Homo sapiens: one gene and its partners. The protein of the gene in region 3 interacts with the protein of the main gene of each other region in a pairwise test. Each region holds a gene or a part of one and is shown on either strand. Other genes may lie near its edges. The genes, in order: ZNF622, SREK1IP1 and MACROH2A1.

Region 1 (3,600 bases), about 120 Mb from region 3:
TCTTCATCAGAATCAATATCTTCCCAATCTGCAAGCCAGAATTTTGAAATATAAAGTTTAAGAAAAGTAGTAGCAAGCAAAGATATCACAAAAATTCACGAGGTGATACAGTCCTATATTTGGAGAAACAGCCACACCCCAACTCCCAAGGACAACTCCTCTTTCAAGATCTCAATTTTAGCTATTTGTTTACCACAGACTCATCTGAATGGCCATGAAACTCCTTAGTCTTTCTTTTCCAGGAAACAGGAATCTTTTCTTTGTTTCTTTCCTATGCCTTACAGCACCTAGCCCAGTGCTGAAAATATAGTTAGGAAGTCTCCTACCTGCCTGGATATTTTTATAAACTTCTAAAACAATGCCTCTATCTACTATTTCACAAAAGTACTATGGGGTGTGTGTATGTGCTGGTAGGGTGCTCTATGAACGGCTATGGTTTGAATGCATGTTTCCCTCCCAAAATTCAAATGTTGAAACTTAATCATCAATGAAATGGCATTAAGAGGTGGGGCCTTTAGTGGGTGATTAGGTTAGGCAAGCACTAATCCTGAATAAATGGATTAGTGCGAGGGAACTGGCTAGCCCCTTTTTTGCCTTCTGCTTCTTCCACCACATGATGACACCATGAGAAAACTTCATCTATAGAACAGGCCCTCACCAGACACTGACTCTGCCAGCACCTTGATTTTGGACTTCCCAATTTCCAGAACTATGGGAAAATACATTTATGTTGTTCATAAATCACCCAGTCTCTAGTACTTCCTTATAGCAGAGTGGACAGACTAAGACATGAACACCTACACCAGCACTGTTAATAGGATGTGGGATGAGGGAAGTAAGGAATAAATAGCTCATAAAGGCAAAGAGGTGAGGGTGCTGGCTCCAGCTCCAAATTTCTGGCTGAGTTGGTTTTGATCCCCTCATTCTGTTTTACTCAACTAAATTAAGTGCAAAACCATCATAACTGGAAACCCACTAGAATCGCAAATTACACGGCAGCTGGTATGACGATAGCATGTCCTCCTGTGCATATGTTAAAAGCCTCTTCATCCAAAACACAGAAGGCATCAATTCATTCTCCAAATATGCATTAAGCACTTCTTTTTCCAGACAAGGTTTTAGGCCTTGGAGAATGAATTGAGTGAACTAAACAGCCAAACCTGCTGGCCAGATAAGGCACTTCAGAAAGCGTCTAAACCACCTTCCCTCATCATTTTTACTTAAAAGCTCTCAAACACACACACACACCCATCTCGAGTATAAATCTGGAAACTTAAGGGTGGGCCAAGTTCCTCTTTACCCTCCCCGCCCAGACAGGGCCATCACCGTCTCCATCCAGGTCCTCTTCCTCCTCCTCGCTGTCCTCCTCCTGCTGCTTTGCCAACTTCTTCGCCTGCTGTTCAAACCACTGGAGCCGGGGTGGTTTCTCACTCGGGTCTCGGTCGTGGGTCCCACGGCCACCAGTACCCACGGCCACGACATTCCTGGCCTCCTTTGCAGGCGCTGGGGGCGCCTTCTTGGGAGACATGGACGGCTGGGCCTTGATGGCCTGCTGGATGGCCGCGTTCATGGCATCCTTGTCCACACTGTCCACGCCCAGTCCTTTCTCCAAGTTCTTTTCATTCATCATCTCCACTTTCCGATTCACTGCCTGCACGGCCTTCTTCTCCAGCTCAACGTGACGCCGGGACTTGAGGTGGTTCTCGTAGGCGTTGAAAGAGGCAAACTTCTTACTGCAAACGGTGCAGTAGGTGGCCGAGCCCTTGCTCTCCTCCTCCGCGACGGCCCGCTGCGCCCGCACTCGCTCCTGGAAGCCCTCGGCGGTCACTGGGGCCATGCTGGCCACCTTCCGCCGCAGGTTGTAGCGGTGCCAGTCCGTCTTATAGTGGGCCCGCTGCATGTCCGCGTCGCGGAACGCCACCCGGCAAGTTATGCAGGTGTACGTCGCCATTGCCAGGCGAGAAATAAGAACCGACCAAGCCAAACACCTGGTGATCAGCGCCGTGGCCCCACAAGACCCTCAGACCTTAACCCGCCTCAGCAGCCAGGAAGAGCCACTCGACACGCCGACTTCCTGATTGTCACTGAGGAAACTTCCGGCACACGTCGGAAGTTATTCACAACTGGACAGGAAACCCGCCTCTCAGGCTGTGGCCACGCCTCCGCCGCCGTGAGGCCCAGGAAGCCGAGGGAACGCTGTGGCTGAAAGGGACCTGGGTCCGCTCAGTCAGCCCGAGGTGGCTGTTGATTGAGGGAGGTCGCGCCCTCCCAGTTACCTTCCCTGGTGGTTGTGCCGCTCGGTGTGACGCGGTCAAGGGGACGGCTACGCGAGAATGGGGGAGTGGGGCGCCCGAGGCTGCTCCTGGGCCCTGGGAAGCCCCCGATTAATGAATGGTCGGGTCAGCGACGCGAGGGTCGGGGTTTCTCTGAGGACCGCGCGCTGCACCTGCGGAGCCGGGTGAATGGATGTCGCGAAGGCAAGGGCTGCCCTTACCCCTCGGGGCCGACCTCGGAGCCCTCGCCCGTGGTTGCAACGCTTTCCCGGGAAACCGGAGAAGCCAGGCCGGGGGCTCGGCCTTTCTGAGGCGGCCCTTCCGGCGGAGGACACCGGCGGAATTTGAGTGCACAGAGTGCGCGAGAGGAGCTCCCTGTAGACACACAGTCCAAGCCACGTAGGTAATTCTAATAGCAGCCACATTTTTAAAGAGTAAAGAGAAATCGGTGAAACTGCTTTTAATGTGTTTAATTTAGCCCATCCTGTCATTTCAGCATGTAATCAGTCTAAAAGAATTAATTAGATCTTTTACGCTCTGTCGTTGGTTCTAAGTCTTGGAAATCCAGTGTGTGTTTTAGAGTTAACAGCCCATCTCAATTTGGACTAGACCCGTGCCAGGTGCCCAGTTGGCTGTGTACCCTCATGTATATAGGACAGCAAAGTTCTGTAGAAAAGAACTTCAGGCCAGGCGCGGTGGCTCACGCCCGTAATCCCAGCACTTTGCGAGGCCGAGGCGGGCGGATCATCTGAGGTCAGGGGTTCAAGACCAGCCTGGCCAACATGGCGAAACCCAGTCTCTGCTAAAAAATACAAAAATTAGTCCCGGCGCAGTGGCGCAGACCTGTAATCCCAGCTACTTGGGAGGTTGAGGCAGGAGAATCGCTTGAACCCGGGAGGCGGAGGTTGTGGTGAGCCGAGATCGCGCCACTGCACTCCAGCCTGGGCAACAGAGCAAGATTCCATCTCAAAAGAAAAAGAAAACATGAACTTCAAATGCTTGGGGAGGTCGTAGATTTCATCCACACAGCCTGGTTGAACCAGAGTCAGCCTTGTTAGAGTCGAATGTTGCATGCTCAGAATCCAGGCTGCCAAGAGAAAACCAAAAGAAGATGGCGCTTTAAAAAACCTTCCAGTGCCTTCCCTTGACTCAATCAAATTCAAACACCTTACTTTCTATTCTCCGAGGCTCTACCCCTCCCTCTGAGGTCCTGCCACACCCCCTTCTCTACCCTGCTCACCCTACTTGAGTCGCAATGACACATTTGATGTTCTTCTAACAAGCACTTTAGTTGGTACTAAGTCAGAAAGTCAGAAATCCATTACTC
Region 2 (3,828 bases), about 71 Mb from region 3:
GAAGCACTCCCTGCTGAGCTAGCTTATCACTAGGTTACCTGAGGTAGAACCACAGGGCTCATCCAGTGGACCAACTGGTATGTTTCTCTGTAACTCTGAAGCAGTTGTGCTTCACAGGTTAAGCCAAATTTTAAAAGCAAGGGGCCTTATTAAATTACAGCACATTTTGTACACTGAAAAATATTCTAAATGGTTTATTCGGACCTAACAAATATTAAAATAGTGATAGAATTTAAGTCAGTCAAAAATAACCTAAAATACAATTAAGAACAAAACACATCTCAAAGTATGTACATGTACATATAACTCTGGGGATGGATCTAATAAAGAATACAGTAGCTTTATGTGTTTTTAGATGATTTAGGTTACTGTGTAATTTTTGGAAATAATAATGAGACTGTAGAAAGAAATGTGAGTCTAATAATAGAGCCTAAAATAATCAAATTATATTTTATGTAGCCTTCTAATGAAAGCAATTTCATCTTTTAAAAATGGTGGGATTAATCGGATTATGAAATTGATAAAACCAAACCCTAATAAAAGTCATTTCCTTCCTTAAAATCTTTTTTTTTTTTTGAGATAGAGTCTCGCTCTGTCGCCCAGGCTGGAGTACAGTGGTGTGATCTCAGCTTACTGCAACTTCCACCTCCTGGGTTTGAGCGATTCTCCTGCCCCAGACTCCAGAGTAGCTGGGAATACAGGTGCCTGTCACCACGTCCGGCTAATTTTTCTATTTTTAGTAGAGACAGGGTTTCGCCAAGTTGGCCAGGCTGGTCTTGAACTCCTGACCTCAGGTGATCCGCCCGCCTCAGCCTCCCAAAGTGCTGGGATTACAGGCGTGAGCCACTGTGCCCGGCCCCCCTTGAAACTCTTTAATGGTGTCTCATTGCTTACACATTACAGTTCAAGCTCCCAAACACGGAACACACGACTCCTTCCTCCTGTTCCTAAGAACTTAAAATGGTAGTCTCAATTCTTACCACTTCCTGCCTCGCCTATGATACACCAGCAACACCAGATTGCTTGTAATTCTTGACAAACACATAACACAGCTTGTTCTACCTCTGGTGTTTGTTCACAGTACCCACTCTGTCAGGAACTGCCATAACCCTCATTCTTATCCTTAATCAAATTGCAATTCAGTCACTACTTTCTCTAGGTAGCCTCTTCTAATTTATCCAGACTACTTTAGGTAACCCCGAGTTTCTATAAACTCATGTTCATGTCAATTACTGCACTAATTATATAACGGTGTATGCTCTGGTGTTTCTCCTACCAACTACACTGTGAAGTCCTTCAGGGAGGCAAATGTGTCTTACTTATCTCTGTATCCCCAGTACTTAGCACAGCGTTTGCCACGTTAGGTACTCAATAAATATTTGTTGAAGAAAGGATTCAATGGCATTTTTATCAACATTATTAACAACTCTTCAGCCTAGTTTACTCTGAAGGTAAACTAGGGTTATATAATTTTAGATACAGTTGTAAATACAAACACATATAGTTGTTTTACTTCTCATTTATTGTTGTTTTGACCTCAGAGAGTCAAAGATGTAAATGGAGATGTATATTAAGTATGAAGAAATAGGGATACCTCTGAGAAATATCAACCAACATATGATATGCAAAAAAAAAAAAGGGGGAAATTGTGTGGTGAGAAGGTCCATCAACCCAAAAATAATGGCCATAAAGTGCCAGATAATCTAGTTCCAGATGCAAACCTAAATATAAATTCTGCCTGCATTTGGTGAAAATGACATGCATTAGGTTGTAAGAATATGAACCAAATATCAATTATCTGCTTGAAGAAGTTGAACGTGTTTATTATATTAATAAATTCAACCTTTACTATTATAGAATGTTATAATAATTTCTAAAGTGAATATTGCTTGAATTTTAAAATATTGATAATTATATATATTAAACCTTGAAGTGATTTCAGAGATAATCTGGTACAATATTTTATAGACGAAAGACACCAAGGCCCAGGGAAACTAAGTGACTTTGTTCAAGATCATACAGGTAGTTAGAATGACCAGGACTGTTTTACTGCTAAATTCAGTTTTCCTTCTGGTACATACTGCCTGGGAGGGAATTTCATTAATTTTCTTCTAAAACATATTCATGAGATTTGCATCCAATCTCAATAATAATATCATATTAGAAGAAAATTACTTCAGTGAAAATAAATTTTTATTCAATTTCATAAACTATGCTAAAATTATGGGAAATTTACTTAGAAATGCCAACATCATTTCTGGGGGGAAAATTACTGATCATTAAAATATTTTAATTTGCATACTACATTAGTTAACGAGGACTGACTTTTGCTCTTCTCAGTCATTATTGTGTCACCATTCAGAAACCTAATGAGCCAATTTATAATCTCTACAATTAACAGTAATAAAACTTACAAGTAATTAACTATTTCACTACAATTACTATCATTTTTAACTATCTTACTCAATGGAATAAGGTCATTGCCTTTGTAGCATTTTCTAATTATTTTTTAATATTTTATTTTACTGTTATTTTTTCAAGGCTAGTCAAGTCAAGCAGTGGGAGTAAAGAAACACCACTGCACTTGTGCCAGCCTCGTTTTTAAAAAAGCTTTATATTAAAAACCGATTTTTAAAATCTTGATAATCGAAGAATATTTTCAAAAAACTAGCAGCAAAGGCAAAACAAATCCCTAAAAACCTACTGGCTCTGTATTTTTTCTCCCAGTAACTGACTGACCTATTTAAACAAAAGCATTTCCTTTTGAGAGGCCCAAATGACTAAATTAGGTTATGGAAGGGTTGAAAGCGTGAGAGCTCTCATGGCTGCAATGCAGAGGGCTGTGGATACAGCTTCCCTAGAATTTAAGCATGGGTAAGCATATGTTAAGAGGAGTTATAAGGCTCCCTGAGTCTTACTGAGGGTATCCACATTGGGTGCCAGGTGAAACAAGAATCAGTAAACCTTTCTAGCCTGTGAGGTTAAGTATACTTAGCTGATTTCACTATCATGAATTCACCTGCAGCCGTATCTATAGGTTATCAATTTGAAAATTTCTAAGCGCACCATAGTGAGGTATTTGCAATCTTTGGTGCTGTGCCATGACATTGGTTGATGTTCGATGCTTCTACAACATAAGCATTTACTTTAGTGGACATAAGGGCTACCTAAGTATTAAGCAAAGTAACACTGATCAATGTGAAAATAGAAATTTAAAAAACGTATCTACTAATATGTGTTTGAAAATGCTTACCCATATAAAATTTCCATTATTATACAAAGGCTTTCATGATGCAACTCCCTGGCTCTTAAATTTTAAAAAGTACAGAATAAAATTCTCAATTCTTTTTTTGACACTTTTTACTCTTGAGTTTGCCACTAAAGTAAAAGAGAGAAACATCCCAAACTGGTCATTTATGAAAACGTTAAGTTCAGTGTGAAACTTGCTTTAAAACTACAAATTATGTCAGACAAAATAAATATATATGCTCACATTTATAAAATTTTCCACAGTACTCATAGAAACAAGCTTCATAAAATTTATACTGAATACAATAAAAATCAGTTCTAATAAAGATTTAGCTATCTTCCTAAATAAAAATTTCTGTGTTTGAGGTATCACTGTAAGACATGCCAATATGGCACATTTGTAAAACAACCCAGGAGTCTATTCTAAAAATCACAACCAACTCAGCATCATCTCTGCAGACTTACTAACAGGCTGAACTAATCTCTTTATACAAGAAGTATTTTAATTATTACAAAAACAAAGGAGGCAGGTACTAGAAATTCTGCATTTCATAGAAGAGTAAAACTTTGTTAGAGATA
Region 3 (3,828 bases):
TCTCCAGATAAACCCATGAATGTGCCAGGTCCATCCTGCTCTTCAGAGGTTTATGCAGGTGTGGGTAGCTCCAGTCAGGCACCCATGACAAGGGGGAGAGTGACTGTGAGGCCAATGGCAATTAAGCATTATAATTAAAAACTAGAAGTCCAAAGCCAGACTGACCTGATTATAACCATGGCTCTGCCGCTTACTGGCTGTGCATTTTTGAGCAAGTGATTTAACCCCTCTGAACCTATTTTCTTATCTTTCAAGTGGAGATGATGCTAGTAAGGGCCTCAAAGAGTTGGTGGCAGAAGTGAATCAAAGCATCCATGTAAGGGCCTGATACTCACTCACTGGGCAAGTTCTCAGTAGTTAACAAAAACAATAATGTGAATAAGATGAAAAAAGGCCATCTTCTTGCAGAACAGATCTTGGACATTTGCGCTGAAGACATTGCTAGCTGCTGTAACAGATAAGTCTCTACAACTTATTTCTCACTCCCGAAAAATCCAAAATGGGTTTCCATGATTGGCTGGTGTTTCTTGTCCACATAGTGATTCATGGATCCAGATGCCTCCCATCTTGTTACTCTCACATCTTCAATACATGATTCCCAGGGTTGCCATGGAAAGAAAAAGACCATGGATAATAACCTATGAGGGTTTTAAGGGGCCAGGCCTGCAAATGGGGCACATCACTTCTGACCATGATCCATCAACTAGAACTTAGTCACATGCCCACAACTAATTGCAAGAGAGGTTGGGAAATGTACTCTGGCTATTTACTCAGAAGAAAAGAGGAAACAGCCAGTCTCTGTCACATGATAAACCAATCTGAACGCTGACCCTAACCCCAGAATGAGTTACCACCCAAAACCTGTTGGGCCCTGTTTGACCCATGTTCTGCATCCAGCCTTGTTTGAGAAACAGACAGCCCTACATCATAGACAAAGCAGCTTCCTAAGCACTCATCACCTCTGCAGGGCAGTGAAGCTGGTCACAGGAGAACAGCTATACTATCTGGTCAAACTTGACAAAGATGTGTTCTTCCTTCCTTCAGTAAACCAGGAGGCTTCACTCATGGCTCTGCATGCTTTGAAAACAATGATAGGTCCTCAGGCAACTGTGTCTGTTCATCATTGCACATTAGCTTGACTGCCCTTTTGGCTGTTATTGGCCTAGAAAATGAAGGTTCTGTGATTGATCTTGAAGGGATCTCTGTGGTCTTTATTTCTGCAACTCTTCCAATTATAAATCACAATAAACATTAACTTTGTTTATAAAACCTCAAAGCTTACCCAAAGACAAACTTTTATAGAGGAGCTGGATGGAGAGATGAGTCAGGCTACAGTGAGAAGCAACAGAGTCTGACCACAGGCCCCTCAGCAATCGAGATGCGACTGGAGCAACGCAGTCAGTTCTTTTAGCACAGGACTAATTAGAAGGCTGGCTATGTAGACCCCATGAATAAGGTGGACATGAGAACAACAAGCTGTGTACTACTAGGAGGGGCAGTAGGGGCAAAGAACCAAAGTGCCATGGAGGCCCTGCCACACCCTCCTATCCCTTCCCAGCAGGCATCCTAACAGGCTGCTCCCTGCACTGCAAACCACCTTCATTCCCACTGGCACCTTCAGCACACCCAGCATGCTCAGTCTGAACATCTCTCTAGCCCTTTGTCTGGAGTAATCCTGCCTACTGGTCCCAATACCTTCCCTGGCAATGATCCATCAATGTGCTCCCTCTTCTGCATTCCTGCCATGGCCATGCCTTCTGTCAGTCACAGTCTAGTTTGGGGCAGCTGCATGTCCAGACTCCAACCTTGTGCACAGGCCCTGTTGACCTCCAACACATCTCTCTATTTGCAACAACCAGAGATCCACCGGGATGAATTTCTCCCTCCCAGTTCCCTCAATGGATGTGGCAGCTGCAGACCCAGGGCCCAGCTAAAAGTGCCTCACAATCTCCCTCAGGCTGCCCCTATTCTTTAATATACTCAATTATTTTTCTTAGTCTTATATACAGTACTCTGCAAATGCAGTTTCCAGCCCTTCCTTCCATCATGATTGCCAGTCACTCTAGATCCCATTTACATATAAGTTCTGAAACCAGCTATCCCATTCTTAGCACTCAGTGCATGGTATCATCATTGCCTATTTACCTGTCTGTCTTGATGAAACGAACCAATTTGCTCTACTCACCACTGTATCTCCAAGCACCCACCACCCTGCCTGGCACCCGGTAGACATGCACATGCCAGCTACAAGGTAGCTGATTAGTTGGCACTGACAGTGGATAGGGAGAAAGGAGAGGGCAGCATTTCCAAAGCCCACAGGACTGGGAGCTATGGCTAGTGGGACACCAATCAGAGACCTTCTCTTGGACATTCATGTACATACACCTGGCAAAATCCCTATAGGAGCCCAGACACTCAAAATTCAGGGAGCTTGTAGAGCTACCTTGGGGATTCTCAGGAAAGGAACACTCCAATTGCCCTGATAGCTGGGCATAAGGCACACTGAGGCCTTATGACTCTGTGACAGTTCTATGGTTCCAGTGACCTCTCCTCCTGCCTCTGGCTCAGTACCATAGACTGCAGGAAAATACTTAACCTTCCTCACATCTATAAGAGATTGACTCCTGTTTAAGCTACAGCACAGAAACCCCTTAAACAATCAGGGCACTCATGAAACCGCTGGAATAGTCAATCATGAAGTATTTTATTATCTAAGCAATGAATACATGCCTATTGATCCCATGCAATATTGATTAGAACTGCTGGGGAGTTGCTAGTCAAAGAGCCCTATCTCCAGCCCCTGAGGATAGAGGAGTCTGAGCTATCAGTGCTCAAATAACTGCTGATGAGGAAGAACCACGCCATCCATTCTGGCAGCTGGATAAATGCCCGCATATCCACATGCATTTGTCACCTTCCCATCAACTCCAATCACAAAGGCCAACCTGAGAAACTTAATTCTGAAGGACAAGACACTAATCCTGTTTACAGCATTCTCTTCCCTCTTCCGTTTACTCCTATCACACCAAATGATTAACGGTGTCACCCGCTGTCATGTCCCCAGAGGCATGTGGATATACTAGACAACCATTGCTCACAGAGCTGGGGTTCACAAGCTGCACTCTGATTGGCTTGGATCAGAGACCTGTTCTAGTATTCTAGCCAATCAGGAAAAATATCTCTCTCCATTCATAAAACACCATATCAAAAAGTGAGCCAGATGATTAAAGAACCTACAGTCCACTCTCAGTGAACTAGGGGACTGCAAACAGAAGAGACAGACCAACTGAGATAGTAAATAAATCATAAACCATGCATTTTGTTCCAGCAGATGTGTCTTACTCCTGTTATGTTTTCAGTGGCAGGAAGAAACAAAACACAAACACAAATGTCATTTACCACAAGCAAGAAACAGTTTTGGGGAAGCTAGTCTGGGATTGAAATTTCACCTCTGCAAACCCATTCGGTGATGCGCTTCCCGAGATGCACTGAAGGAACTGTGCAGCTTGCTACATTTTAACAGCAAGTTACTGCCTGCCTGCTTTACAAAAAAACTTTTCTACATACTCCTCTCTCTTTTAAAGGTTGTGCCAAACTCTTAAGATAACCAGTCTCACGGAAGGCTATTTAGAGAAAAGTTAAAGTGTGGGCTTCACAGGACAGGACTCTGATAAGGCTTAGCATGTAGAATCCACTCATTATTTGCCGAGTAGACGTGTTCCCAATAAGAATAAAAAGAACACCTGATCCTGTCTCTCTCCTGCTCAAAACCCTTCAGTTGCTCTTAGGATAAAGTGTGGGTCTGACCAGAATCCTTTGTGATTTGTC

Evidence for each region.
Region 1: the proteins of MACROH2A1 (region 3) and ZNF622 interact in binary tests that used the Homo sapiens proteins (3 or more experiments, as listed by UniProt).
Region 2: the proteins of MACROH2A1 (region 3) and SREK1IP1 interact in binary tests that used the Homo sapiens proteins (3 or more experiments, as listed by UniProt).

What each region holds. Positions count from the first base shown.
Region 1 is NC_000005.10:16,463,715-16,467,314, forward strand, and holds the start of ZNF622 (cytoplasmic 60S subunit biogenesis factor ZNF622), read right to left. Parts: upstream 2,087-3,600; 5' UTR 1,952-2,086; coding exon 1,327-1,951; intron 29-1,326; coding exon 1-28. UniProt on the Homo sapiens protein: Pre-60S-associated cytoplasmic factor involved in the cytoplasmic maturation of the 60S subunit.
Region 2 is NC_000005.10:64,719,950-64,723,777, forward strand, and holds part of SREK1IP1 (protein SREK1IP1), read right to left. Parts: 3' UTR 1-3,828. UniProt on the Homo sapiens protein: Possible splicing regulator involved in the control of cellular survival.
Region 3 is NC_000005.10:135,392,606-135,396,433, forward strand, and holds part of MACROH2A1 (core histone macro-H2A.1), read right to left. Parts: intron 1-3,828. UniProt on the Homo sapiens protein: Variant histone H2A which replaces conventional H2A in a subset of nucleosomes where it represses transcription. Nucleosomes wrap and compact DNA into chromatin, limiting DNA accessibility to the cellular machineries which require DNA as a template.